Linked DNA regions of Homo sapiens: regions 2, 3 and 4 are each linked to region 1. The links come from fine-mapping of genetic effects on gene expression. A gene starts in region 1. Each other region holds a variant in brackets. All regions are shown on one strand. Distances are from middle to middle.

Region 1 (5,000 bases):
AACAATAATCTAATAATAAGGCTGACAATGGTTCAGCCCTAGTGTCTTGATTCCAAAAACCTCACTTCTTTATTTTTTCCTGTCATCAGGAGATATCACTGACTCCTGGGACCCTGGTATATCAAGTCTCTGTATCATAGCCACACCTGCCACCTTGCAAACCTGGATCTTGGCCAGGTGCAGTGGCTCATGCATATCATCTCAGCGATTTGGGAAGATCGCTTGAGCCCAGGAGTTTGAGGACAGTCTGGCCAACATAGCAAAACCCTGTCTCTATGCAAAAAAGAAAAAAAAAAAGAGAAAAAGAAAAGCTAGGTCTTTTCTATTAGAGTCTAGAGGCAAGGTAAGCCCTCACTATTCTCTTTATTTCCATTCCCGTGTCAGCTCAAGAACTTGACAGGTCTAAACCAGCGTCGGTGAGAGGAAGGGGTATAAGCTACAATGCCTAGAAGAGAATGAGCGGACAGATTGAAAGAGCTTTGAAAAGTATAAGGTGCCATCCACATAACCTGGTGTTCACGAGAACACACTAAAGGACTCCTGAGTCACTACCACAGCCACCTGGAAACCACAAGGCATTTGATGCTACCGTTCTGGTCAGGGATTGGGCTGCTTCTTCAGTTCCTAATACCAGACCAAGCCTCCTGATGCCTTTCTGCACTGCAACTGTGTGATTGAAAAATGAGATGTTCATCCAAGCAGTCAAGCCACAGAAACCCAGCATGTCCCTGTCACAATCTCATGGGCACCTTGATCATGTCTTAACCTTCCCTTAACCTTGGGGCTCCCAAGCCAGAGTCAAGGTCTGACGCCACCTCAAGGTGACAGCTCATCTCCAGCACAGCACAGGCGTGTGCACACAGAGGTGTTCCTTGCAGCCCCCTCCCTCTCAGGTGTCCTGAGATGCTGTTCCTGGGAGCCCCCTCAGAAAACTGCCTCACCTGAGACAAGTGCCTGCTGGACAGAGGTGTGATTCCAGGCCTGGTGTCACATGACACCAGCATGCATTGCAGGATTATTAGTGTATTTTGAGTCTGTAAAAATAATAAATATGTTTGAAGTAGTTTCCCATTGTGTAGTTAGTTTCCTTATCAATCATGATAGGTATCCAGGACCCCAGAGGGAGACAGGTTAAGTTATGGCAGCCAGGAGACCTGTGTTCTGGCGCTGCCACTGCCTAATACATAGTGGTAATTATAGTACCTCTGCGTCTCTGGGCTCAAGTCTTCCCATCAGTAAAATACGGGTAACAGAAGCCTTCCCACAGACCATCAGCTCCCTTGGCTGCTCTTGTCTGACGATTTTAGTGGTACATTCTTTAGCCCCAGTAATTTTCTCAGCCTCTACACTGGCTGGGTTCCCTTTGCACGTCTGGTTAGCTCTGTTTTCTGCTTTGCTCTCTTCTGCCTGTCAGCTGAATATTAATGGGGGAAAGTCAGCAACTAATTGAATTTCAGATCTCTTGTGGGTCTTCCACTGGATCTTTTTTGCACCTCTCAATTCCTTGTATCTCTTGACATCCTGTGAAGTTTTCGCAGTAGCTGTTCCAGTTTTCATTGCATTCTCCTTTTTCCTTCATAGCATCCATCTTACACTCAGCAGACAACCATAATTCTTAATTTACCAAGATGACACAGGTTATGGAGCAGGGTTCCATCAGTGCCCACCCTCTGTTTCAGGAAGAGGTGTCACTCTTTGCAAAGGCAAACTCCTCTTTATCTGGTTACTCTTCTCCCAACTCTTAAATGTATTTCCTGCCACGTTCTATTTTAGAGCTTTTCTCTGTTGGAGCAGCAGCCACTTTTTTTGAGGCCCATTTAAACCTCTCTCCAGTCTGTTTAGGGGACTTCAGTAGTTCTTTGTTGAGCATGCACCCCACATGGTGCCCACTGCCAGGCACTGGGGATGCAGAGACAAAGAGTTCCCACTCACCCACCACAGCTACACAGACTGTAGAGGAAGCATTAGGTTAAAGAACATTGTATCTTTTCCTGAAGTTTTCAGAAGTGCATGGTCCATACTTGAGACTGCAAGGGAAAGGGTATTTACTTATAATTCAGGTATACTTTGCTAAAATATACATTCATATTAAAATATACTTTTGTTTTTCTATAGATGTACAAGTTCTTTTTAAGTGCTTCATAGTATTCCATGTGTGTATACTCCACCAGGTCTCTTATCAATGGACAGTACAAACAGTACTACCACGAACGTCCCTGCACTCGTATCTTTGTTTACAACTGCAAGTGTTTCTGCAGTATGAATTCTTAGAAGTGTTACTGTTAAGTGAAGGACGTATGCGTGTTTTGCCAAACTACCCTCCGAGATAGCTGAATCTGGTACATTTTAAAGCAGGAGGCCGCAGAAGACGCTCGGCAGTTCTGGCCTCCGAGCAGCAGGCGGCGCTGTGAGTCGTCTTTGCGGAAGCCGCGGAGGCCTCGCTGACTGACTTCCGGTGTTGGCGGTGGCGCCGCGCAGTCACCGCGGAGCAGACGCGGAGGCTGGTGGCCCCTGGGCGAGATGCCGTACGCCAACCAGCCTACCGTGCGGATCACGGAGCTCACTGACGAGAATGTCAAGTTCATCATCGAGAACACCGACCTGGCGTAAGGCTACCGAGGGAAGAGGCTGGCGGCTCTGGGGCGCCGGGAGGCCCAAGCCGGGGCCCCGGGGCAGGGGGCGGGGGTGTAGTGGGGTGGGGTGGGGGCGATGTCCTTCCAGAGCTGCCCCCCTGCACCAGGGCTTTAGCTTTGGGAGCCTGCGGCGCGGGCCCAGCCTGTCGAGGCTGCAGCGCCTTCACGCCCCTTGGCTTTTGATCTTTCAGGGTGGCCAATTCGATTCGGAGGGTCTTCATCGCTGAGGTTCCCATAATAGGTAAGCGACTCCCCTTCCTCGTTCCCGCGCCCACGGGTTCCTGCCCCGCTCTCCACCCACACACTCTTTGGGGCTCCTTCCAGTCCTTGGTTCGGGCTGAGGGTGGTAGTGCTGAGAAAAGTGCATTGCTGGAGACTTGACCATACCCTGTGCCCTTGGCTCAGTGGCCGCCTCCCTGGCGCCCACGGGCCACTTAGGTCCACCCTTGTCCTGGGTATGCATTGCTGAGAAGCATGGGTTTAGCAGTGTGCAGACTTGGGTTCAAATACTGTTTTCACTACTATTGTTACAAAAGTTTTTAAAATGTTTTCAACTTTTATTTTGGAGTCAAGGGGTACATTGGTGCAGGTTTGTTGCCTGGGTATAGTGCGTGATGCTGAGATTTGGGGTATAAATGATCCTTTCACCCAGGTAGTGAGCATAGTACGCAATAGGTAGTTTTTCACCCCTAGCCCCACTGCCTCCCTTCCAGCTCTAGTAGTCACCAGTGTGTTTATTGTCATCTTTATGTCCGTGCGTACCCAGTTTTAGCTCCCATGCGGTGTTTGGTTTTCTGTTCCTGTGTTAATTCTCTTAGGATAATGGCTTCCAGGCCGCGCTCGCGCCTGTAATTCCAGCACTTTGGGAGGCCAAGACTGAGGAACACCTGAGGCCAGGAGTTTGAGACCAGCCTGGCCAACATGGGGAAAGCCCGCCTCTACTAAAAATGCAAAAATTAGCCAGGTGTGGTGGCTCCCACCTGTAATCCCAGCTACTGGGGAGGCTGAGGCAGAATTGATTGAACCCAGAAGGTGGAGGTTGCAGTGAGCCGAGATCATGCCACTGCACTCTGGCCTGGGCAATAGAGTGAGACTCCTTCTCAAACAAAAGAAAATAAAAAAGAAGATAGTGGCTTCCAGCCACGTCCATGTTGCTGCAGAGGACATGATTTCGTTCGTTCTTATGGCTGCATCACTTACTGCTTTTGTGAAACTTGGGCAAGTTATTAAACTTCTGTGTGCTGCAGTTTCCTCATCTGTAACATTCGGCCACTAATGATCCTTATCAGGGTAATGTTAAGGATTAAGTGAGGTAATCCATATAAGTGCTTTGTGTTTAGTGAGTGCTCAGTGCTGGTAGATGGCTTTTTTATTAATCTATTCCTTCAACAGCATTTATGGAGCATGAAAGTGGCAGGCATGGTGGTAAGCTCTGGGAATGCAAAGCTGTAGAGAACAGGGTTTTTGCCCTCATGGAGTCCACAGTGAGGTTGTAGGGGAGAGATGAATCCACAGACAACACTAAAGCAAGGTAGATTTTGATCAGTAGTTCAGGAGAAGCATAGCTGTGGTGCACTTGGCTCTTAGAGGAGGGAAGATCAATTTCTGGTCTGGTTCCAGCCACTCTGCTCCAGGTGCTTAATGCATTGATTATACTTGTATGAAATACTTCAAGCATTTCTGAGAGTCAGCTCAGAGAGTTTGGATTAGGCAAAATAAATATAAGTCATAGCTGTGGCATCAAATATTCAGACTTTTAAGGAAATAAGCAGGCCAAATGATTAGGCAAGAGAACATTGTAGTTTATCCACTACCACCACCACCCCACCCCCCCGCCCCCCAGTCACTTCTTAAATTCAGCTTGGAGTGCTGGACCTCCCCCTGCCTAAGCACTTCATGCCTCTGGACCTCAGTTTCATCAGGAGTCAGGTGAGGGAGTTGTACTTCATGATGCAGCCCTGCCATTCTGAGTCTAAATGCCTCTTTCCCAACAAATTCAGTTCTACAAATAATATTGAGCACCCATGCTAGGAATACAAAGACATCCCAGGACCTGCGTGAAGGAATTTCTGAAGCTTGAGGTATAGACATAACATACACAAATATGACACAAGGCACACTATGACAAGTGTCTTGAGGGAAGTCTGAACAGAGTTTTGTGAGAGAGGAGTTGAAAGGGAGGGAATGTCACATCTGTAGCATAGAGAGCAGGCAAGGCTTAGTTTTCAGGAGGCACAGAGGATCTTAACCTGTACAGCAAGGAGGGGAAGGGTGTGCTGGAGGGAAGGGCTGGGGGATTAAAGAGGCAGAAAAGCTTGGGTCAGGGTTCTCTCAGTTGGCTTGGACTGGGGAAGCAATGGGAAGCAT
Region 2 (5,000 bases), 48 kb after region 1:
TCTAACACGCTAAGAATGAGCCCAGTAGACCGAGTTCTGAAGGGCTGGTGGGACTTTGATGAGTGCAGGGCAGTACTCGGGGCAGTAAGGAGGTCGGCATGGCTGGAGCTGCAGCGTCTGCAGAGTAGAGTGTGGTGGTGAGGCAGAGGGCAGGGGCCACATGGGGCCTTGCTTTGGAGGGTGGGGTGGCGACCCATGATCAGGAGCGTGGGCCAGGTGCGGTGGCTCATGTCTGTAATCCCAGCACTTTGAGAGGCCAAGGCAGGTGGATCACTTGAGGTCAGGAGTTTGAGACCAGCCTGGCCAACATGGTGAAACCCCGTTTCTACTAAAAACAAACAAACAACAACAACAACAACAAAAAACAGCTGGGCGTGGTGGCACATGCTTGTAATCCCAGCTACAGGGAAGGCTGAGGCAGGAGAATCTCTTGAACCTGGGAGACAGAGGCTGCAGTGAGCCGGGATTGTGCCCCTGCACTCCAGCCTGGGTGACACAGACACACATTGTCTCAAAAATAATAATAATAAATAAAAACAATAAAGGAGTGTGGGCTCTGGCCGGGATCCCAGTTTCATGTCTAGTCAGCTGTGTGGCCTTGGAACAATCACTCCATCTCTCTGAGCCCCTGGATCCTCAGCATAAAATAGGATGATGATGGTGACACCTACCGCGTGTGGCTGTTGGGAATGATCAGTGAGACGATGCCTGTGAGGCACAGTGGGGTGGGAGGGGCGCTCAACACATTCTAGCTGTTCTTGGCAGTCACCCCTGGAGTGACCAGGAGCCTGCAGGGGATCAGAGCCCGCGAGTGACATGTGCTCTTGGCCTGGCTACATCTCATGCTGGCGGGCTCAGCACCTCCCCTCTCTCTGTTTCCTTACTTGCTCAAAGAGAAACTGGACTAAGCCCGAGGAAAAATCTTCAAATGCCTCCAAGAGTGGGGCAGTAATTTAAATGAGTGAGGGCAGTGCAGGGGAAGGCTGCAGGGAGTGGTGGGGACTGCGGTGCCCAGGGTGCCTGTGTCCCACCCCAGGGAGGAGCCTCCTCTCAGCCCAGCAGCTGTAGCCATGTGGGAGTGAGTCCACGCTGGTCAGAGATGCTAACTTCTCAAGAGAGGGAACCCCATGGCTTTGTGGGAAAACCTCCCATTACTAATGTTAGCAACGCATTAAATACTTTTTAAAGTATCAAATGAGGCAAAGCTAATGCTTCTTTGGGCAGTGGCCACCATGAACACTAGGTGACTTTCTCTGCAGGTAAGCTGGGGAGCCACAGAAGGGCTGTGAGCAGAAGCAGCACACGTTCCAGGCTGGGACCATCTCCAAGCCCTATCTGCAACCGTCCCTCCCCTCCCGAGGCCTGTTTTCTTGTGTACCATGGAGGTGGGAAGCCAGACCCTCTCCTTGCTGACATTCTTAGGAGCAGTCTGCCTGGGAGATAGGGGCTGTAATGAGGCCCCTGCTCAGTGCTATCTCACAGGTGGTGCCAGGGAGTCTGGGGGAGCCTGGCCACGCCAGACAGGGTCTGCTCTGTGTCTGGGAATGGCAGGTCTGGCAGGTCCAGCCGGAGGTGGCTCTTAGAGCTAGTGTCAGTGAGGGCCTGGCTCCTGCCTCCTAGCTCTTCAGGGTCAAAGGGCAGCACTTTCAGCCTTTTCTGGGACCAACTTCCTATTTGGGAGAGAAAGCAGACAGATCCCTGGCAGGAAATGACCTTCTTCTCAAAGCCCTGTTTTCCACTGGCGCTGACTTTCCACTGGCCACAAAGCAGGAGTCCCCGTGGTTGTCTCACTCAGCCTCCCCATCCCCCTCAGAGCCCAGGGGCTTTGCCATGGCAGCAAACCCACCTCGCTAACATCATTAATTTAGTGTTGGCAACAGAAAATTTTTCAGTGCC[CTTAT/C]TTATTAGCGCCCAGCTGGGCTCCTGGGTCTGCCTCTCTCCTCTTCACAATCCCCAGAGCTCCTGGTGACCCTGAGACCCAGCACCAGGTGTCCCTGGTGTCCCTGGGACAGCTCTGAGCATTGTGGCCTCATGGCTCCCTCTTAACTAGGCCACACCGAGAGAAAATCATTTAGTGCAGCTCTCCCACCCCTAGCAGGCAGCCCCTTTGTCAACCGAATTTAACTGCTCTTTGGGGCCAGGCTGGAGCCCTAGCCTCTCCTTGCACAGCCCTAAACACAGGGAGCTCACCACCTTCTTTATGCTAGAATAATCCTGGCAACGCTTCCTTCTGCAGAAAGCAGGCCCGGGTACTGAGAATTTACCTAAAGGGTCCCATCAAAAGAGCAGATGCCCCGAAAGCCACTTTGACTGTGAAAGATCAAAAGTGTATGCTACCGTGTTTCTTTTTTTTTTGGAGACAGAGTCTTGCTCTGTCGCCCAGGCTGGAGTGCAGTGGTGCAATCTCGGCTCACTGCAAACTCCACCTCCCGAGTTCAAGCGATTCTTCTGCCTCAGCCTCCCGAGTAGCTGGGATTACAGGCGCCTGCCACCAGGCCCGGCTAATTTTTGTATTTTTAGTTGGGACAGGGTTTCACCATGTTGGCCAGGCTGGTCTTGAACTCCCGACCTCAGGTGATCTGCCTGCCTCAGCCTCCCAAAGTGCTAGGATTACAGGCATGAGCCACCATGCCCAGCCTGCTACCATGTTTCTAATCACTGTTACCATCAGATTTAACATAAATCTGCTGGTTATAGAAGGTATAGAAATTAAATACCAAAAATAAAACTGCCTGTAATTTCGCTATGTAGGGCAGGGCTGGGGGGAAAAAAAGGGTTTGTAATTTATTGTGTCCACATCTACCTCTAGGTAAACTTCCATCAATACTTGAACTTCATCCCCTGCGCCCACCTGGCAAATCCCTCCTCTCCAGGGAAAACTTTTAGGTATTTAATATAACTAACCTTTACCGAGCTCTGGGTTAACCTATCTAATTCTTGTGACAGCTCTGAGACATCTTATAAATGAAGAAACTGAGGCTCAGAGAGGGCAAGTAACTTCCCAGAGGTTGCACAGCTAATAAGGGGCAGAGACATGAATCCATCGGGTGCCAGAACTGAAGTCTCTAGAGTAGGCATGCACTGTACTTTCTTCCTCCTCGCCACAGGAGTGGATACCAGACTGCTCAGCAGCTCAGATGTTTATTCATTCATTCTTTGTGGGGTTTTTTTTGAGACCGAGTCTTGCTCTGTTGCCCAGGCTGGAGTGCAATGGTGTGATCTCGGCTCACTGCAACTCCCACCTCCTGGCTTCAAGCGATTCTCCTGCCTCAGCCTCCTGAGTAGCTGAAATCACAGGCAATCAACACCATACCCGGCTCATTTTTGTGTTTTTTTTTTTTTTTTTTCATTTTTGTGTTTTTAGTAAAGACGGGATTTGGCCATGTTGCCCAGGCTGGTCTTGAACTCCTGGGCTCAAGCAATCTACCTGCGTTGGACTCCCAAAGTGCTGGGATTACAGGTGTGAGCCACCGTGGCTGGCCTCATTCATTCATTCTTTCTTCTTCACATTCACTCATTTATTAAGTTACTTGACATTCCTGAGCTCTGGTTCAGCGTCAGGTGCAGGCCGATGCCGTCCCCCACAACCCCCGCCCACATCTGCCATACTTTCAGATGCCCCAAGAACTTGAACTTCATTTATTACAAATAACTGGGTTCACTGCATTGTATGATGAACAGCGAAGCCTAGAGAGGCAGCCCAGGGTGGGGCTCCAACAACTGCCCCCAACATGCCCAGCCCTGCATGAAGTCCTGGGTGGGTGAGGTCATCTGGACTGGGCCTTGGAGCTGTCCTGTATTTATAAAACCAAATGGGTCCAAAGACTTCTGGGTGTGCGCGCGCGCGCGCGCGTGTGTGTATATATATATATAAAACATAGGCTTCCTTTCCACAGGGCGTTGGTAGGTGGGACTGTTGACGCCATCCCTGGGAGAGAAGAAAGTCGGCTGTGGCAGGGACTGGTCCCAGAGTGAGCCTAGGCACTGCATCAGTTTGAGTGGCTGGTTAGCCTGGACCCTGGGCAGGTATGGGGCGGCCCATCCTGCCCAGCCACAGGAAGCTCTAGGCCACCTGGATTTGCAGGTCCTCGTCCTCGTCCAGGTCACTGGTTCCATCCTCGGCCTCCTCGGTGCCAAAGCGAGCACTGCGGATCTTCCCGAAGAGGGGAGCGTTCTGCTGCTGCCTGCGGAGCCTGTGGGGTGGGGGTGACAGGAGGTTAGAGCAGCCTGGCTGGTAGTCCCCCGATAAGGTGGCTGCAGCTGGTGCTGGAGCAGTTAAGCCTTCCCTGGTGCTTTCCCTGCTGTCTCATCTCCTGTAATCTCCTTATATGATAGAAGTGCCATTATCACCCCCATTTTACAAGCAAGGAAACCGAGGCACAGAAAGGTGAAGTCATTTGCTCAAAGTCACACAGATGGTGGGGAGTGGGGCAGAGCTCTGAACTGAAGTGGGTGGTGCCAGAGCAGCTGGGCGGTTAGAGAGGTGAAGGAGCTGGCTCAAGGTCATGCTGCAGGATTTGAACCCAAGCCTGGCTCTCAGAGCACAGGCAGCAGAGTTGGTTGGTGTGACAGTGCAGGGTGGGCTGAGCCCTCTACATTCCCAGTGTCAGTGAGAAAGGGCTCAGCCCTAGTTCTTCCTCACATTAAAATTCCTAAAGTCAAAATTTACGAGGAAAACTTTGAGTCTAAGAAGAGCTGGTGAAGGAAATGCCGATCCCTCCCCCAACCCCCCAGCAAAGTGGCCGCCCCGGCTGCATCTTACTGGAAGACATGAATTATTAACACGTAAGGGAGGGGCACAGGCGGGGGCCTCCATTACTGCACAGTGATTTAGTGAGCTGTCCCCGGAACATTAAAGCACAAAAAGTTGGAAAATAAAACGACACAGCGGTCCTGGGTGGCCCCACCCTCCCCGATGGAAGCACTTGAGAGGCCCAGCAGGGCCTGCCTGCCCACTTCTGGAGTTTATGGCTCCTGAACAATGTGACCCAGACTGCGGG
Region 3 (8,035 bases), 67 kb before region 1:
TGATTGTGCTGCTGCACTCCAGCCTGGGCAACAGAGCAATTCCTTGTCTCAAAAAAAAAAAAAAAAAGCTTGAAAACATGCTGTTAGCTGGCTCTCCTCTTCATCTCTTCATTCATCCTTTTTGCAGATGCTTGGAGGTCACCCTCAGCACGGCCCACTGTCTATGGTGTCTGTGGATTTATCTGGAATTCTCACTGAGTGGAGTTGGAAAGAGGAAAGGCTTTACAGTTTCTCTGAAATACGTTGGTGCTCGAGAGTTTTAATGGCTCGGATGTTGTGATGGTTAATGTTGAATGTCAACTTGATTGGATGCAAAGTATTGTTCCTAGGTATGTCTGTGAGGGTGTTGCCAAAGGAGAGCAACAGTTGACTCAGTGGACTGGGAGAGGCAGACCCACCCTCAATCTGGGTGGGCACAATCTAATCAGCTGCCAGCACGGCTAGAATAAAAGCAGGCAGAAGAACATGGAAAGACTAGACTGGCTTTGCCTCCCAGCCTACATCTTTCTCCCATGCTGGATGCTTCTTGCCCTCCAACATCGGACTCCAAGTTCTTCAGCTTTGGGACTCAGGCTGGCTTCCTTGCTCCTTGGCTTGCAGATGGCCTGTTGTGGAATGTCACCTTGTGATCATGTGAGTCAATACTCCTTAATAAATTTCCCTTTATATATACATCTATCTTTTTAGTTCTGTCCCTCTAGAGAACCTTGACTAATACAGATATGCTTCAGCAGACAAGGAAGTAAATAGGGAAAAGAATAGTAACATTATCCAGCCTCACCTCATTGCCAGTTGATCTGGGTCGGCCAGTTTTGCAAGCACCTCCTAAGCCCAGAAGCCAAACCAGGGTAACCTGGGCCTGTGGGCACAGGAATCAGGTGTGTAGGCACAGCTCTAGGGACCAGCAAGGGCAGTTTCTGTGTCTCAGCTTTCCTGGAGGGTTTCCATGGGTCAATTGGCTTTACCCTCATCCTCCTACTGCCAGTTCCCATCCTTCTCACCCTCTCCCAGCACATTTGTCCACAGATTTTTTTTTTTTTTTGAGATGGATTCTCGCTCTGTCACCCAGGGTGGAGTCCAGTGGCACACTCTTGGCTCACTGCAACCTCCGCCTCCTAGGTTCAAGCAGTTCTCCTGTCTCAGCCTCCTGAGTAGCTGGGTTTACAGGCACACACCACCATACCCAGCTGATTTTTTTGTGTGTATTGTTTTTGTTTTTGTATTTTTTGTATTTTTAGTAGAGATGGGGTTGGCCAGGCTCGTCTCAAACTCCTGACCTCAGGTGATCCACCTGCCTCCCAAAGTGATTGGTGCTGATTGGTGCATTTTATAGATTTTTAAGTATTTTTTTTCTTTTTTCTTTTTTCTTTTTCTTTTCTTTTTTTTTGAAACAGAGTTTGTGCTCTTCTTGCCCAGGCTGGAGTGAAATGGCACAATCTTGGCTCACTGCAACCTCTGCCTTCTGGGTTCAAGCGATTCTCCTGCCTCAGCCTTCCAAGTAGCTGGGACTACAGGTGCGTGCCACCACGCCTGGATAATTATTTGTATATAGTAGAGACAGGGTTTCACCATATTGGTCAGGCTGGTCTCAAATTCCTGACCTCAGGTGATCTACCCACCTCGGCCTCCCAAAGTGCTGGGATTGCAGGTATCAGCCACCACACCCAGCTGATTTTCTTTATATTTCAAGTCAGTCTTCTCTCTATCTGAGAGAACTTACCCCTTAACTAGTCCCCTGGCCAACTTCTATTCATCCTTTGTCTCAGCTTAGATGTCACCTCTTCCAGGAGGCCTTCCCTGACTTCTAAGTTTAAGGAAGGTTTCCTGTTAAGCGGACTCATGGCCCCTGGGGTCTTCCCTCATAACCCTCACGTGACCTGGCTGTACCTGCCTGCCCCACTGTGTTTCTGAAAGATCTGTGAGGGAAGGCATGGATGTGCCCTGTTTCCCTTTGTGTCCCAGTGACCACTGCAGATCCTGGAAAGGGTGAAGAGGGGAAAGGCCAGAGCCCACCCATCTGTGTCTTTTGACACTCCTTGTGCCGTGCCCCTTTCCAACTGATGGAAAAGCCCACCTTGTCCTTGTGGGGCGCTGAATTTCAAGGAATTTCCTGGTGGAAAGTATTTAACTCCCTCAAACGACTGTCAGAGACTGAAAGTGATCATCTGTGATGTGTTCGAGTCACTCCTGAGCTCCTCGAATCCTCCAATTGTTACAAAGTAATGGACTTGCTGCCCGATGTGAGTAGAAGCCAATATTATAGCACCACTTTTGCGAAAAGAAAAAGCTTTATTCCAAGTCACCTGGCAAGGAGACAGGAGACAACACTCAAATCTGCCTCCCTGATCCCTGGGTGGGTCAAGTTGTTATGGCACTGTTAACTAGTCCCAGGGATGCCAATGTGGCCGGTTGCCACGTTGGTGGTGCTAACTCTCAGGAGGTGGAAGTTTTCTCTGATTGCACCGGGCCAGGCTACATGACATGCAGTTTTGGCTCCGTGCCATCTGTAACAACTCAAGCAATGGTAAACTAGTTTGAGCTGGTCCTGTGGTTATGCAATCACCAGCACATCCCGGTCAAGACATTGTCCCCAGGCAGGCCAGAATCCCCAGGAAGCCTGGACTGGGTCACACCCTGCTTGTCGCCCAATCTCTCCAGAGGAGTGAGGAGGCAAGGGAGAATCTAGAAGCTCTGGAGTCTCAGTGTGTCTCCAGTTGGTTCCTGCCAGTGGGTTCATGGTCTCGCTGACTTCAATAATGAAGCCGCTGACCTTCGCAGTGAGTGCTACAGCTCTTAAAGATGGCACGGACCCAAAGAGTGAGTGGTAGCAAGGTTTACTGTGAAGAGCAAAAGGACAAAGCTTCCATAGCATGGAAGGGGACCCAAGCAGGTTGCCGCCGCTGGCTGGGGGTGGGCAGCATTTAGTCTCTTATTGGCCCCACCCATGTTCCATTTCTGTCCTATCAGAGTGCTCTTTTTTTCAATCCTCCCCACGATTGGCTACTTTTAGAATCCTGCCAATTGGTGTGTTTTACAGATTGCTGATTGGTGCATTTTACAGAGTGCTGATTGGTGCATTTTACAATCCTCTTGCTAGCTACAGAGCACTGATTGGTACGTTGTTACAGAGCGCTGATTGTGGCATTTTATAATCCACTTGCTAGCTACAGAGTGCTGATTAGTGCATTTTTACAGAGTGCTGATTGGTGCATTTTACAATCCCCTTGCTAGCTGCAGAGCGCTGATTGGTGCATTTTGCAATCCTAGCTACAGAGTGCTGATTGGTGCGTTTTACATTCCTCTTGCTGGACAGAAAAGTTCTCCAAGTCCCCACTCGACCCAGGAAGTCCAGCTGGCTTTACCTCTCAATCCCCGCTCTAAACAGGACACCCCAACTGCTGTTGAGAATTGGGTAATGACTGCTCTAGCTACTTCCTGCTGGATAGGGACAAAGAAGGGGCCCTGCAGTGGTAGTGTCCTCCAGAGGGGAACTCTCTGGGCCAAAGGGCCAGTGGGTCGATCCAGGGGTCCTCGGTAGAAGTTGTTAGTTGAGCTCATTTGGGGTTCCATTTTTAAAACCATCTATAGCTTGATGGCCTCAATCCTGGAGGAAACAAATTTGACAAGGAGGTCAAAAATACAGGGCCCGAAGGCAAATAATAGCAAGATGGCTGTCACGGGACCTAGAAAAGGGAGAAGCATGTCGCCCAACTCCAGAAGTGGGTATAAGAGTTTGAAAGGCATTGTCTGATTTCAGAAGCCTTTTCCTGTAAACACCGGGTGGTGTCTCATACTATCCCTGACAG[G/A]TTACTGTAAAAACAACACTCTTCCCCTAAGAAGGTACAGAGTCCTCCTTTCTCAGCAGTGAGGAGGTCTAGGCCTCAGTGGTTTTGGAGAGTCACTGCTGCCAAAGAGTCTATTTGGGACTGTAGAGTAAGGATAGATTTTGTTATTTCTTGCAAACTATCTTAGAGAGTGTGTGGTAGTAGGATAATGAAGTAGATACACTGGCTATTCTGGTTCCTGTAACAGTGGCCATTCCTAACCCTATAAGTAGGGGTATTAGTTGTATTGCTCTGCACTGACAGACTTGAGCTTTGAGGTGCACTGATAGGGTCTGATTTCCTGGGGCAATGTCAATGTTGGGACTTAGGAAGACTAAGGTGCAGGTGCCTGTCCAGTTGGTGGGGAGGCAGATATAGGTTGAAGTTCCACATAAGAAGAATATGCCTTGGCTGGGTACACAGAACTGGTTGTGTATGTTAAAAAGGTGTGTGAGTTTGTTGTTTTCATTTTCCCATACTCCTAGAGTACTTGCCAAGGTAGCTCCAGTGAGCGGCTGGAAAGGAGTGTTGGGAGCAAACTGAGTGGCTCCCTGTGTTCTATTTTACCATTGGAGAAAAAATCGTTTTGTATCTACTAGGAACCATTCAAGAGAGTGATTGAAATAGGGGATGAGAAGGCATTCACTAGTGGTGGGGGCGCTGCTGCAGGGGGTCCAGGGGTGAATGGTCATGCAGGGAGTATGTTTGCCATTATTAAACCTAGACTGTTTGTTAAGCAGGAAGGAGGTGATGATTTTTGGAGGCTCTGAGAAGCGGACAAGCCATCTGAATGGAGCTGTTTGGGTGAGTCGGAAGTTACTGTGATCAGTTGGGGCTTGAAGTTGTAGGGTGTAATTACACTGATGGGATAGTAGGTGCCCCAGGGGCAGTCCTGATAACAGGTTGCATTGGATGCATAAAGGGGCTTGGAAAGTTAAGACAGTATTCGTGGTTGCAGGGCCATGTATGGTTTTTTCATTGCTTGTGTAATAGGTTAGGTTGGAAATGTAAGAGTGTAAAAGCTGGATTGCGAAGCTTTGGGGAAGCCCAAATCTAGGAATTATTTCATGAATTAGGACTTTAACCACTTCCTGATCCTTCTCTGTCTTGCAAGGGAAGGCTTCTATCCAATTTGTAAAGGTTTCAACACAGACTAACAAGTATTGAAATCCCCTTGACTTAGGCATATGAGAGACGTCTAACTGCCAGTCCTCTCTGGGATGGTGCCCTATTCTTTGTTGTCCCAGAGGGGCCTTACGATGGGCCAAGGGATTATGCCTTTGGCACACATCACAGGCTTTGACTACTTGTCGGATGGTCCGGAGGAGATTTGGCCCTGTAAATAGGGATTTGGCCATTTGATGAGTGTTCTCAATACCCATATGAAAACTTTGGTGGAGGGTCTTAAGTATTTTCCACTGGCTGCCCTCTTCTGTCGTTAACCATCCCGAGGGGAGAAAACTATGCCCCCATGAAAGTCCCCATTCTGTTTCAGTCAGGGAATACTGGGGCTTAATCTCTTGGAGAGGGTTGTTCCATACCAAGGGTCCTTCTCTAGGTATTTCTAATGGGAGTTTCCACCTGGCAGCAATTTTGACCTCAGCGTCTGCCTGACGGTTTCCTTCTGCCTTTTCTCCTTCACCTTTTTGATGGCTTCAGCAGTGTAAGACTGCCACTTCCTTGGGGTCTTGCACTGCATGCGATAACTCCATGATTTTCTTGTGGTATTTAATGGGAGCTCCCCCAGAGGTTAGGAACTCCCTTTCTTTCCATATTGCAGCATGGGCATGTAGGATTAGATAAGCACACTTGCTATCTGTGTACACATTTATTCTTTTTTTCCTTTCCCAGTTCTAAGGCTTGGGTAAGTGCCACTAGTTCTGGTAACTGGGCGCTGGTCCCTAGGGGAAAAGGCTTACTTTCAAGTACTGTTACATCAGTAACTATGGCATAACCTGCCCTTTGTATCCCATTCTCCGCAAATGAACTTCCATCAGCATATAGGTTAAGGTCAGGATTAGCTAAGGGGACTTCCAAGAGATCCTCTTGGGTGGCATAAGTCTGGGCTGCAATTTGTTGGCAGTCATGCTCAATTGGTTCCCCATCCTCTGGGAGAAAAGTAGCAGGGCTGAGGGCCGCACAGGTGCATATTTGAAGCACCGGTCCCTCAAGGAGTAGCACCTGGTATCTAAGCAGATGGTTGTCTGATAGCCATAAATTTCTTTTGGCACCTAGTATGCCATTTACATCATGAGTAGTCCAGATGGTGAAATCCTTTCCTTGTATTATTTTGATAGCCTCTGATACTAACATGGCCACCACCGCAACTACCCATAAACAGTGAGGCCAGCCTTTAGCTACTACATCAATTTCCTTACTTAGGTATGCCACTGGTTGTGGGGTTATTCCTCGAGTCTGAGTAAGGACTCCAAGAGCTATTCCCACTCTCTCTGTGATGTGTAAAGAGAAGTTTTGTCCTCTGGGAAGGCTTAAGGCTGGAGCTTGTACTAGGGCCTGCTTTAAGGTTTTGAAGGCTGTTTCTGCCTCTGGTTCCCATTCTACTAGATGGCCCTCTGGGTCTCCTTGATTAGAGTATAGAGAGGCTTGGCCATCTCGCTGTATCTGGGGATCCATAGTTGGCAAAAGCCAGTGATCCCAAGGAACCCCTGCAACTGTTTTAATGTCTTAGGGTGAGGATAAGCCAGTATAGGCTGTATTCATTCTTTGCTGAGGGCCCTGGTTCCTCTGGCTAAGATTAGGCCTAGATATTTGACTTGTTGTAGGCAGAGCTGGGCCTTCAATTTAGATGCCTTGTACCCTTGATTAGCTAGAAAGTTCAAGATATCTAGAGTAGCCTGCTGGCATGAGGCTTCCAAACTGGTAGCCAAAAGTAAATCATCCACATACTGAAGGACCAGAGTCCCTGAACTTGAGAAGTGGCCGAGATCTTGGGCCAGTGCCTGACCAAACAGATGAGAGCTATCCCTAAACCTTGAGGCAAGACCGTCCATGTAAGTTGGGATGTGTGGTCTGTGGGATCCTCAAAGGCAAAGAGAAACTGGGAGTCAGAGTGCAGGGGAATGCAGAAGAAGCCATCCTTGAGGTCCAGAACAGTGAACAATTCTGCTTCCTCTGGTATTTGAGAGTAGGGTGTAGGGGTTGGGTACAGCTGGATATAGAGGAATTACTGCCTCATTGATGAGTCTAAGATCTTGCATCAGGACTCTCTGAGTGCCAGAGCTTCTGCCACCTGGATGTTTTCCTGGGCCTCCCCTTCTCCCCACCCCTGGTTCTCACCTGGACCTGTCTGACCTGTTTCCAGGTGCTTATACATTGCCACGACCACCATCAGATCAATGAAGGAGAAATCCCATCCACATGGCTGGGGCCCTCTTTCTAGAGTGTCAGGGGTAGGTAACCACCAGGGCAACAGCAGTGGTGGCCTGGGGAGAGGTGGAGGAAAGGAGTCATTAGTTTATTGCCAGAGATGCTGATCAATAAGACATTGACCTTCTTTTTTTTACTTATTTATTTTTTTTATTTTTGGAGAAGGAATCTTGCTCTGTCGCCCAGGCTGGAGTGCAAAGGTGGGATCTTGGCTCACTGCAACCTCTGCCTCCTAGGTTCAAGCGATTCTTCTGCTTCAGCCTCCAAAGTAGCTGGGACTACAGGTGTGTGCCACCTTGCCCAGCTAATTTTTTATTTTTAGTAGAGATGGGGTTTCACCATGTTGGCCAGGCTGGTCTTGAACACCTGACCTCAGGTGATCTGCCCCCTTGGCCTCCCAAGTGTTGGTATTACAGGCGTAAGCCACTGCTCCTGGCCTGACATGGACCTTCTTCTCATGAGGTTCACTGTCCACATGATATCCCTGTGAGCCTTTGGATGCATTTTCTCATTGTCATCCCTGTCACAGCTCAAAGATGAGCTCGTGCTCATAGTGTTACCAAAACACCATGGGTGCAGTCTAGGTCCTGCTGCTCCCCACACAGAAAGCCAATCACTGAGACACCAAGTATTGCCAAGGAAGACTTTAATCGAGTGCTGCAACCAAGCAGATGGGAGCTCAGTCTGAAATCCATCTCCCTGATTGACTAAAACCAGGAGTTTATACAGCAGAGAAGAAATGTAACAATGTATAAGAAAACAGGAACTGGCAGGACGCGGTGGCTCACGCCTGTAATCCCAGCACTTTGGGAGGCGGAGGTGGG
Region 4 (6,212 bases), 150 kb before region 1:
CTCACTGCAACCTCCATTTCCCAGTTCAAGTGATTCTCCTGCCTCAGCCTCCTGAGTAGATGGGATTACAGGCGCCCACCACTACCCCCAGCTAATTTTTTTTTTTTTTGTATTTTTAGTAGAGATGGGGTTTCACCATGTTGGCCAGGCTGGTCTTGAACTCCTGACCTCAGGCGATCCACCTGCCTCGGCCTCCCAAAGTGCTGGGATTACAGGTGTGAGCCACCATGCCTGGCTGGCCAATTTTAATTTGAGCCCTCGTGGCTGAGTGCATGGACTCTGGGACCACCTGAGTTCAAATCCTGCTTCTGCCATTTGCTAGCTCTGTGACCTTGGGGGAGTTACTTAGCCTCTCAGTTCCCCAGTTTCGCCATCTGTAAAATGGGCTTAGTACTAATATCTATCTTAGAGGATTTTTGAGAAGATCAAATAAGTTAATACATGCTGAGCACTTAGAGTGCCTGGAGCAGAGTAAATGCTTTATGTGTTAGCCCAGCAAAATAAAACAATGTGACTTTTTTATTTTATTTTATTTTTTTTGAGACAAGATCTTACTCTGTCACCCAGGCTGGAGTGTAGTGGTGCAATCACAACTAACTCCAGCCTCGACTGCCTGGGCTCAAGTGATCCTTCCACCTCAGCCTCCCGAGTAGCTAGCACTACAGGCACAAGCCACCACGCCTGGCTAATTTTTGCAAAAAAACATTTCTGTAGAGATGGGGTCTCAATATATTGCCTAGGGTGGTCTTGAACTCCTGGCCTCAAGCACACCTCCCACCTCAGCCTCCCAAAATGCTGAGATTATAGGCATGAGCCACTGTGCCCAGCCTAATATGACAGTTCTTGTGCCTGGTGAATACTATGGGGCCAGTTTGACCTGCCAATCTGACTTTGTGGAGAGAATCTCTAGCCTGCCCTCCCCACAACCACAGTGCATCCTGACTGCCTCACCTGAGTCAGCCGTGACCAGCTTTCCGACCTCTTCCCCCACCTTCATCTCCCACCTCCATTTATCTGGTTTTCCAATACAAAACGTACTCCCTCTGCAGGGTCTATGAAACTGGCCGTTTCCTCTGTCTAGAGCCATCTTCTTCAAATGACTCTTCCTCAGCGCGTGGCTAAAGCAGCCCCCACCTCTCCTCCCACTCATTTGCTATCTGGCCACCCTATTTGAGATCCGAAGTCACCGTGTTCATTGGCTGGCTTATCTGTTGATCGTGTTTCTCCCTGACTAGGCTCTGGGCTCTGCGAAGGCAGGGACCTTGGCCATCTAGTTCACCAGGGTATTCCTGGCAGGTAGGGCATTCCTGTCACATAGCAGGAGCTTGGTAAATAAATAGTACATGAGTGGGTGAACGGACAAAGGGATGCATGGATGGATGGATGGACGGACGGACAGACGACTGAGTCAATTCTCTGGGCTCTTCAAGTCAGCTTTTTGTGCCTCTCTAGTGGAGCTCAGGAAGCCTGGGTTCCCCCCTGGGAAGGCCATTCATGACCCTTGCCTTCCCCAGGAGTCTTCATCTCTGAGTCCCGTGCCTAGCCCTCCCCATTGGGATAACAACCCTTTTGCCTGCCTGGGCTTGGGGACCTCCAGACCCTCGGGAAGGTCCATCTGCTCTGTCTTTCTGGGCTAAAAGGTTCCTGTGTTCTGCTCAGAGCTGCACCAGGGCAGAGTTTTCTCTCGGGGTGGGCTGCATCCTTAGTGTGGGGTATGGGATGCAGTGTCTGAGGTCGAGGCCTCTGGATGGTCTCCTGATGTGCTTCCTATGGCCATATCAGTAGCAACAGGTGGAAATACTGCTGTGCTCCTTGGTAAATGGGGCTGCAATGAGCCTCCCATAGTCCCCACGACCATCCTGGCCCTTCCCCTCTCCGGGATTCCCCACAACCCCCAAAACTCCTGGGCACCCAGCACTAAGGCTATTATCTGCTCTCACTGGCATGTGCCCTACTAGCCATCACATCTTTTGAACATTTCCGCCAGACTAAGATCATGTCTTTCCTGTTCAATCTCATACTCCAGTACTCTTGGGAGCCTCTTTTTATTCAATCCAACCTGCATTCTGGTCACTTTTCACTCTCACCTCACATCCCTCTCCCTCCCCATCCTGTGTGGCCCCCTTAGTCTTTGGGTACCAAACCTCCTGATTCTCCTTTGGGAAACCCCTCCGTGGCCACTGTCAGTCCCATCAGGAAAGGTGAGGCTGACTCTCCTCTCCTCTCATGCTGGGAATGGTCAGACGACTCACATCTGCTAGTCAGCCATTCCACCCATCTTGCCACAACACTGATTGGTTCAGAAATGAGTGCAGAATTCCAGTTGGTCCAGTGGGAGTCTGGCCTGGGGGAACACTTGGAATAGAGAAGCTGGGTGCGGGGTCAGGTGGCTGAGCTGGTGGTGGCTGTCTTTGCTATGCCATCCAGAACCTACTTGAGAAGGAAAGCTGGAAAATATACAATGTCAGCTCTCTGACGACATTGACGACATTGGAAAGCCTGGAGCTAGCTGTCCCTCAATTTATCCCTTTTGGTCTTGTCAGTTTCATGAGCCAATGCCCTTTTTCACTTATGCCAGTTTAATGTGAACCTCTGTCACATGTAACCCAAAGAAAAATACAGCCTGGACCTGTACCCTCCCACACAGTAGTCACTCACTGGCTCTTGAGCATTTGAAATGTGGCCAGTCCAGGCCAGGTGTAGTGGCTCACGCCTGTAATCCTAGCACTTTGGGAGGCCGAGGCAGGCAGATCACTTGAGGTCAGGAGTTCGAGACCATCTTGGCCAACATGGCAAAACCCCATCTCCACTAAAAATACAAAAATTAGCTGGGCATGGTGGTGTACACCTGTAATCCCAGCTACTCAGGAGGGTGAGGCAGGAGAATTGCTTGAATCCGGGAGGCAGAAGTTGCAGTAAGCTTAGATCATGCCACTGGACTCCAGCCTGGACAATAGAGTGAGACTCCATCTCAAAAAAAAAAAAAAGTAAATAATATAATATAAAATAAAATAAAAAAAGAAATGTGGCCAGTCTGAATTCAGAGGGATCATGAGTGTAAAATACAAAGTAGGTTTCAAAGACAGTATGAAAAAAATGTAAACTGTTTTATTATTAATTTTCAATGTAATTATACTTTGGCCATGTTGGGTCAAATAAAAATATATTATTAAAATTAATTTCCACTGTTTCTATTTACTTTTTTCAATGCTGCTACTAGAAAAATTTAATTTCTGGCTGGGTGCGGTGGCTCATGCCTGTAACCCCAGCACTTTGGGAGGCTGAGGCAGATGGATCACTTGAGGTCAGGAGTTCAAGACTAGCCTGGCCAACATGGTGAAACCCCATCTCTACCAAAAATACAAAAAAAGTAGATGGGTGTGGTGGCACACGCCTTTATTCCCAGTTACTCAGGAGGCTGAGACAGGAGAATCGCTTGAACC[T/C]GGGAGGCGGAGGTTGCAGTGAGCTGAGATTGTGCCATTGCACTGTAGTCTTGGCGACACAGCGAGACTCTGTTTAAAAAAAAAAAAAAAAAAACGGAAAAAGAATAAGAAAAAGAAATTGAATTTCCTGTGTGGCTTGTGTCATATTTCTATTGGGCAGTGCTAGCTTAGATGGCTCCTCTGCAAAACATCAGGAAACAAGAGATCAGATCCTGCCTGATTAAATGATGCAGACTTAGTGGAAGAGAAAGAACTCCAGGGATGCCAAAGAGGAGGAGGTGTGCTGGAGAAGGTGGGCAGAGAAGGACCGGTCTGACCTATATGGGCTGAGAGGAGGGGGAAGGCATTCCATGGAGCCCATCATGAGCAAAGGCCTAGGGGTGGGACTGAGAGAAGATGGGTCTCAGGAGAACCAAGGATGGTATGGAGTCCAGTTGAGATAGGGCATCAATTTCTCCAGGAAAGCCAGGGATCCTGGGGAAAGTGCAATAAAGAGGGACAAATATTCCATTTTCCTTTCAATCACTACACATTTTCTATGGGCATCATTTTAAAATCATTATTTATTTTTATTTTATTTATTTATTTTTAAGATGGAGCCTCGCTCTGTTGCCCAGACTGGAGTGCAGTGGCATGATCTCAGCTCGCTGCAGTCTCTGCTTCCTGGGTTCAAGAGATTCTCCTGTCTCTGCTTCCGAAGTAGCTGGGATTACAAGCGCACACTACCACGCCCGGCTAATTTTTGTATTTTTAGTAGAGATGGCGTTTCACCATGTTGGCCAGGCTCGTCTCGAACTCCTGGCCTCAAGTGATCCACCCGCCTCAGCCTCCCAAAGTGCTGGCAAGACAGGCATGAGCCACCAGGCCTGGCCTTATTTATATTTTAGAGAAAGGCCTTGCTCTGTCACCCAGGCTGGAGTGCAATGGTGCAATCTTGGCTTGCTGCAGCCTCAAACTCCTGGGCTCAAAAGATCCTGCTGCCTCAGCTTCCTGAGTAAGCTGGGGCTACAGGTGTTTGGCCACCATGTCCCGCTAATTGAAACAACAACAACAAAATTTTTTTTTTTTTTTTGTAGAGACAAGGTCTACGTTGCCCAGGCTGGTCTTAAACTCCTGGCCTCAAGCAATCCTCCTGCCTTGGCTTCCCAAAGTGTTGAGATTACAAGCATGAGCCACTGCTCCTGGCCCTGTGTGCATCGTGAGAGCCCAGAGCTGGTGCAGCCATTTCTCCAGCCTTCCAGAGTCAGAGCTAGCCCCTAAACTGCTTGGACCCAGTGTTGCAGGCCATATCCGGGACGCAAACCCATCCAAGTGGGGCTTCCAAGGAGGGAAATGGGGACCACAACCCTGGGGAGGGGAAGGAACCCACAGCTGAAGCCCTTTTCCACCTGCGTGAAGCCACTCAGAGTTTTGACATTTCCTCTGGAAATTCTTTATCTTCAAATAACTCCCCATTTCCCTCTGGATTTTGATATGCCTAATGCTATTTTCTCCAGGCCTGTTTGTTGCAGTCTTTCTCTATGGTTGCTGGGACTCAGATCCTAGAAGACCAACCTATGTCCTTTGTCCTGGGGACCTCAGCAGAGGATGTGCCAGCAGGGGCACAGGTGGGTCTGCCCAGGGGAGGTGCCTGGACAGGCAACAGGTGGACTCTTGGAGTCCCAGGAGGTCATGACAGGGTGGTGCAAGTCGCGTGCCCTGTTCCCCAGCCAGAGACACGGTGGGCAGGGCAGGGGAGGGTGGGGGCTGGGGGAGTCATGTTTCCCAAAATGCACTGCTTTTGCAACGTGAAAGGAAAAAGAGCCATGAAAATTACTTTTCATTCTAAAAAAAGAGCATTACTGATGCCTCCTTTGTTCTCCAAAGGTTTCAGCAGATATACAGAGCAAGTTTCTTCATTTATCAAGTTCCTCATAAAAATGAGAGTCTGATGCAAAATTTTTCTAGGTCAGGTTGTCTGAGAAAGTTTCCAAGTTGCTGAAGGAGCTCAACACCTTCACCCGCCCTCAGCTCTCCTCTGGTTCCCTCCCACGGGAGCCTTTCCTGACCTCCAGCCTGGGTCAGCTCCCCTGTCTGCACCAGAACCCTTGGCATGGTGTGTGTGTGTGTGTGTGTGTGTGTGTGTGTGTGTGTGTGTGTGTCAGAGAGAGAGAGAGAGAGGAGAGTCTTAGGCTACGTGTGTCCCCACCAGACCCCACACTCATGTGAGCTGGGACTCTTCAATCCCCACAGATCTTGGTGCCTGCTTCCCTGTAGGAACTGTTTTTGTTTTTGAGACAGGGTCTTGCTCTGTCACCCAGGTTGGAATGCAGTGGCTCGATCATGACTCAATGCAGCCTCAACCTTCTAGGCTCAAATGATCCTCCCACCTCAGCCTCCCGACTTGCTGGGACTTTAGGCATGCACCACCAAGCCTGGATAACTTTTGTATTTTTTGTAGAGACAGAGTCTCACTATGTTGCCCAGGGTGGTCTCGAATTTCTGGACTCAAGTGATCCTCCTGCCTTGGCCTCCAAAAGTGCTGGGATTTCAGTCACTGAGGCTGGCCTCCTTGTAGGAAGTATTTATTAATTGAAAGAACAAATGAATAAATCCCCCAATAAATCCCCAATTCAGAGTGTTTCCCCCGTATGTTCATAGCACCCCAACTAGGGCCCTCAGTACTTGTGCTCAAGTCCTCAAGATTACATTTTGGGGATCCAGTTCTCTCCTGGTTAATGTCTGACTATGGAAGAGAAGGATGTTCCTCTCTCCACCTGCCCAGCTCTT

Alleles and levels. Positions count from the first base shown, and alleles are read on the strand shown. Sizes are in standard deviations (SD) of each study's normalised expression. Not every link is listed here.
For the expression in monocytes of the gene that starts at base 2,475 in region 1, allele C in region 2 goes with a lower level than allele CTTAT (large effect, 1.5 SD a copy in Fairfax 2014).
For the expression in monocytes after LPS of the gene that starts at base 2,475 in region 1, allele T in region 4 goes with a higher level than allele C (large effect, 2.1 SD a copy in Fairfax 2014).

What was found. PIP is the estimated chance that this variant, and not a neighbour inherited with it, causes the effect. A credible set is the group of variants that fine-mapping cannot tell apart.
Region 2: its variant is the best candidate, but not a certain one, in a credible set for the expression of POLR2C in monocytes (Fairfax 2014, PIP 0.65).
Region 3: its variant is the best candidate, but not a certain one, in a credible set for the expression of POLR2C in monocytes after LPS (Fairfax 2014, PIP 0.73).
Region 4: its variant is the best candidate, but not a certain one, in a credible set for the expression of POLR2C in monocytes after LPS (Fairfax 2014, PIP 0.52).

The regions. Positions count from the first base shown.
Region 1 is chr16:57,460,205-57,465,204 of GRCh38, forward strand. It overlaps POLR2C (RNA polymerase II subunit C), which reads left to right and starts at 2,475. Exons shown (of 9, transcript NM_032940.3): 1 at 2,475-2,606; 2 at 2,825-2,874. The coding sequence starts at 2,521. COQ9 (coenzyme Q9) reads left to right here. Exons shown (of 9, transcript NM_020312.4): 9 at 385-1,066. The coding sequence ends at 420. RefSeq lists an enhancer at 2,333-2,627.
Region 2 is chr16:57,508,678-57,513,677 of GRCh38, forward strand. It overlaps CCDC102A (coiled-coil domain containing 102A), which reads right to left. Exons shown (of 9, transcript NM_033212.4): 9 at 3,504-4,193. The coding sequence ends at 4,064. Among named protein-coding and RNA genes, the nearest start is that of DOK4, 25 kb to the left of the region's middle. RefSeq lists enhancers at 1-357, 1,053-1,553. The variant CTTAT/C (reference allele first, on the strand shown) is at 1,897.
Region 3 is chr16:57,392,099-57,400,133 of GRCh38, forward strand. It overlaps a transcript of CCL17 not described here. Among named protein-coding and RNA genes, the nearest start is that of CCL17, 8.7 kb to the right of the region's middle. The variant G/A (reference allele first, on the strand shown) is at 3,807.
Region 4 is chr16:57,305,904-57,312,115 of GRCh38, forward strand. No RefSeq gene overlaps it. Among named protein-coding and RNA genes, the nearest start is that of TRL-CAG2-2, 8.4 kb to the left of the region's middle. The variant T/C (reference allele first, on the strand shown) is at 3,444.